2 separate regions of the Homo sapiens genome follow, and region 2 is linked to region 1. The links come from fine-mapping of genetic effects on gene expression. Tissue or cell type: whole blood. Region 1 holds a variant in brackets; the other region holds the start of a gene. All regions are shown on one strand. Distances are from middle to middle.

What was found. PIP is the estimated chance that this variant, and not a neighbour inherited with it, causes the effect.
Region 2: it holds the start of MAML2, and the variant in region 1 is fine-mapped to the expression of MAML2 in whole blood (INTERVAL, PIP 0.93).

Annotation. Positions count from the first base shown.
Region 1 is chr11:96,138,229-96,140,989 of GRCh38, reverse strand. All of the region lies in intron 1 of MAML2 (mastermind like transcriptional coactivator 2), which reads left to right. Among named protein-coding and RNA genes, the nearest start is that of MIR1260B, 200 kb to the left of the region's middle. The variant AAG/G (reference allele first, on the strand shown) is at 1,446.
Region 2 is chr11:96,341,795-96,344,294 of GRCh38, reverse strand. MAML2 (mastermind like transcriptional coactivator 2) reads left to right here and starts at 1,100. Exons shown (of 5, transcript NM_032427.4): 1 at 1,100-2,500. The coding sequence starts at 2,400. RefSeq lists silencers at 917-1,106, 2,224-2,483.

The DNA.
Region 1 (2,761 bases):
AATTTAACTAGGCATCCTATATGTTTACTTATTACATCTGGCCAACCTAGTCCTGAGTCAAAAGCAGCAAATAAAGCCATTTGAAAGACAGAGACAGTGATGTTCCTGTGTGTCCCTAAAATGACAGCTCCTAGCATGGCCCGTGATGGAATAAATGGAGCCAGTCAAGTGTATTTGACCTCCTTAGCCCATAGGCTTACCCTAATCCAGACTGGTGGGCTCTAGAGGGAGGAAGAGCCGCCTGACCCTCAAGTTCTAGACTCTGGAGGTATCTGTCATGTAGATCTGGAGTGGTGGAAGGTCCTTTGGGAACTACTGAACGATGGAGAGAGTGACGTCTAGGGGCAACACTGCTACCTCTGGCAGCACTGCTCCAGGCTATATCAACTGGAGCTGAGAAGTGCCTCTGCATGTAAGAGCTCTGGTATAAAGTCAGCAAAATTTAGAGAGTAGCTTCTTATGGTTTGCTCAAAGAAACTCCAAGATCTTGTCTTCTGCTGGCCATTCATCAAAATTGGCTTAGATTCATCTCAGCCTGTTCATGTTGGGCAGAAGGGCTGTGCCTTAGCCCAAAACTACATACCTCACCAGAGGCAATAACAGTGGTTTTAATGCTGTCTTTTCTTTCTCATCTATCTGGGCTGATTTTTAGCTTTTGAGGATCAAAGAACTAACAAGAAAAATATAACTTGTCAACAGTATGGTGAAGTCAGGCCAAAGCAAGAAGGTGAAAATGAATTGATATTAGCAGGGTAAGCAATTAATTTTCTTCCTTTAGTCCTGGCTTTTGTGCTTGCCACAAGTCTAATGGAGTACCAGATGAACCATGCCAATGCCTGGGCACTAATAACAAAACAAAAGCTGATAAAGATGGATAAAATCATCTATGGAGGCAGGAAGCAATTAACCACATAAAGAAAGTGAAACATCATCAATGATAAGCCTCAGCAGCAATTTACTTGGGTTTGAGAACTTTTCGTTCTGATGGTTTTCAATAAGTTTTCCTCATTTTCTGCAGCTTCCTTAATTCAATAGATTTTTTTAAAGATAGAATTATGCAGTCATTACTACCCACATACCCAGGCCTTCATTGCATCACGGAGAGTAGATGTGGGTGGAAAGAGTGGGAATAGGCAACAGAGACGGAAATTTCAAAGGCCCTTAATGTTTGCCTTTGCTTGAGTATTTTGTATTATTTTGGTCTTTGCCATCATCTGGTATTGCCCTGAGCTTCTGCACTGTCTTTATGAAAAACACTGAAAAACAACAGTTGTTGCTGACCAAAATGATTATGAGTAGGTAAAGGGGAGAGGTAGCCCCAGAGGTCAGATTTCCTGCTGTCAAATCACCTTTCTCTAGGGATCAAAAAATTATTGTGATTCTTGGTAAAGAATTTAACATGGTTGGGGATTTCTTATTCTCTCTTAAATATATCAAAAAAAAAA[AAG/G]GAACTGTTATATATCAAGTATTTGATATGATAATTGTTGGATACCACTGTCTTTTTTTTTTTTTTAAGACAGAGTCTCGCTCTGTCGCCCAGGCTGGAGTGCAGTGGTGGGATCTCAGCTCAGTGCAAGCTCTGCCTCCCAGGTTCACGCCATTCTCCTGCCTCAGCCTCCCCAGTAGCTGGGGCTACAGGCGCCCGCCACCACGCCCGGCTAATTTTTTGTATTTTTAGTAGAGACAGGGTTACACTGTGTTAGCCAGGATGGTCTCGATCTCCTGACCTCGTGATCTGCCCGCCTCGGCCTCCCACAGTGCTGGGATTACAGGTGTGAGCCACCACTGTCTTTTTTCAGTGGTGAGTGATAGGCCTAATGTATCTGATCGCTGTACAAAGTTGTATTAGGAAAGCTGATTTGGTTTGTGGAACATTACCAATATATATATGGAAAAAGGTTTTATTACCACATGGTTCTGGCATATCTTCCTTGTAAGGTATTGTAAGTATCAAATGACAAGGGAGTTCTGGAATTTACTACATGAGAAAGTATAACTAGTGACTTTTCATATTTTTGGAAGACTAAAGAAAAATTAAATTTTAGAATGGGTTGTGAAATCTCTTTCTTACCAGCATTTTATGGTAGAAGACAAGCATCTGCCCTCAAGTTTTAGAAAACTGGTCTATATAAAAGTAAGGGACTCAGCCAGATAAATCAAGCACCCTAGGACAATACAAAGTTGTCAGGAGGATTCCCAGGTTCTGGGGATCATAGAAACTCACCGATCTCTACCTGGAAAGCTTTTTGGGGCCTTCCTGGACTATGTCTCGGAGGTGCTTCCTGCTCAGGCATTTCCAAGTGAGGATGCATTATCAAACCCAGTCCCTGGTGGTTTACCCGGCAATCATTATTCACCAACCCCCCCATCTTTCTTACCCTCTCTGAATGCTGGCTGACCACTTGGGGGTAAGGAAAACAGGAAGAGTGCAATAAGATCGCCCATTAGCAGCCATTAGGAGTTCAACATTCATATCTCAGCAGTCACTGGAATAGATTTTTCATAAATTTCCTGAGCACCCTTGTGGAACACAATATAAGAGGCAGCCATTTTGCTCCCTCTTTTACAGATGGCATAAATAACTTCCTTTGGCCACAAAGCTTCAGAGTTAGGAGCTATACAAAGATCTCCTAGGCAAGGGGCAGTAATATGAGCTCAGGTGGCGGTCAGGTGGCTGTCTGGAAATCAGTACTTGAAGAGGGAGACAAAGGAATAGCTTTCAGGGATTCAGCCAACAAACACAGGTATCAGCATGGACGAC
Region 2 (2,500 bases), 200 kb before region 1:
TTGGCCTCCCAAAGTGCTGGGATTACAGGCGTGAGCCACTGTGCCTGGCCAGGATTGGATATTTTAAAGGTTGGATCACTTGAAAATGGGGGAACAATGATCTGTGTGAGATCTATTTGGTTTCTATTATTAAACTTCTTGAAACTCAGAGCCAGGTGCAGTAGTGGTGAGTACCTGTAGTTCCAGCTACTCAGGAGGCTCAAGTGGGAGGATCACTTGAGCCCAGGAGTTCAACTCCAGCCTGGGCAACATAACAAGACTCCATTAAAAGAAAAAAAAAAAAAAAACTTTTTGAAACTCAGCTGCTACACATTGACTTTCCTCATTGTATATGTGCACCAGGTAGCTAAGGATACTTCAGGTCTTATATTTGGTTTTTCATAGGCAATCATGCATTCCCAAAAAAAAAGCGTTTTTTTCTAGAACTGGTATCGATAATTGTATCATTCTCATAAAATATTTTATTTATCCCAACTGATTTGCCTGTGATCACCCAGACTCACTTATCCAGAGACACACAAATGGGCAGGCAGGTAGACAAACGCTACACCTGCCTGCCCTTTAGGAGCTAACAATGTGATTACCTCTCCTCTCCACGCGCAACCCCTTCCGCCCTCAACACACACATTCATATCTTCCTTATTCTATTAATGAACATTTCCTCGGTGCTCACACAGCTCGTGCTAGGTTGCTCAGTGGTGTCATTTACAATATACTGAAAAATGAAAATGATATCCTCAGCGGGGCGTAATGTAGGGCTGAAAGGGAAAACACATTCCTGGCCCGGAATTTCTTAAACATTTAGAGCTGGTGAAATGGTTGTGTAGAGGTTGGGGAATTTCCCCAGCCTTCCCCGCTTAACCGAGTCTGATGCTGAGCTGAGCCAGGGCAGCTGAGATGCGCAGGGCTTGGGATTTACCTCTTCAGCCACTGGGAGGCCCTCTGCGTTCCCCTTTCCCCGGTGCCTGGCTGCGATTACTCACTCGCGCAGTGGCACCAGCCTTCCACCAGGGAGCCTCGAACGAGCTCTCCCGCCCTCTCCCCGCCCCCCCACCCCCATCTGCAGCTTGCTGGCTCTCTCTTTCTCCTTCTCTGTCTCACTCTCTCTCTTTCTCTCCCTCTCCTATCGGAGCACAATGAAAGCCTGTGTATCGCCGTGACTCCGGGCGCGAGCCAGTGTCAGCAAAGCGGCTAACAACAGACGAGAAAGAGAAAGGAAAATACAAGCTACTTTTTTTTTCCATCTATAAAGCGGAGCAAATACAGGAGATAGAACCAGATTGCTTATTGCGAGTCCAGACCCTCAGATCCACTGGCCGGGGATGGAATGTACAAAAGTGGACAGAAAAGTGGCTGGACATGACTCGGTGCAATTTGCTGGAAGTTTGTAAGTTTGACCATCGTTTGTAAATTACTCTCGGAAGAGTTTGTCTCTCTTGATACTGTATTAGAATAGAGCCGGGGGTGAGGAATAGAAACGTAAGCGGGAAAGAAAAAAATGTGTTGAAGGATCTCTCTCAGTGGCTAGCGACTTAAGATTGCTTTTCATTTAAGGCTAGGAAACCTTAGAGGGAGTGAGGATTTTACCGGTGATTGGATTAGCTGAAGAAAAAAGCATGGTCCAAAAGTCCAATTACTGACATTGTTAACAGTTGAAAAGCTGTCTCCCTCTTTTGGGAGAAGACAACATCCTACAGTACCCCAAAGAGGAGAAAACACCGGAGCGAAAGGAAAGGGAGGAAAAATTAAAAGCCAAAAGACAGTCTCCCTTGATTTTTGCACATTTTGAACAGTGACTTAAACATCTTCTGAAACAGCACTGTTTTGTTTTGTTTTGGTTTTTTATTTAACCTGAGGAAAAGTCAAGGCTGCTGGTTACATAGACATGGTAGAAATGTGTTTCTCTGCAGAAACATCCCCATAAAGAATTGTCGGAAACAACTAGGTGAGGGGGAGTCCTCTCTATTAATACCTCTCTCAATACCTTTTGCTGTGTGTTTCTGTCTCTTGCTGGACAATCCCTGAATTCTTGATCTAACCCCCAGATCGTGTGTTTACAAAGTACCTAGTGGCTCTTGTCAGCTTGGTGGAGGAAAAAAAATCCACCAACTCTGTCCAACTTCTCCAGAGCTGTCAAATGCAATTAGAGTAAGTTAATCAGGGTTTGTTTCCAACTTATCCTCCCCCCAGTTGGTTTCTATTCTTTCTCCCCACCCTCTTTTTACTAACTCCCCTCCCCCACAACTTCTCCACGGCTCCCCCACAACCTCTGAAGACCTCTATTCATGTGGCCCTGAACACTGAGCTCACATTGTCAAAAACAGACTTGCCTGCAATAGCCAGCAGTAGCCTCTTTCCACCTCACCATCCCAGAGGCAGCAATCATTGTGTCCGGTAAGATGGGGGACACAGCGCCCCCGCAGGCCCCCGCAGGAGGGCTAGGGGGGGCCTCTGGGGCGGGGCTCCTTGGAGGGGGCTCAGTCACCCCGAGAGTGCACAG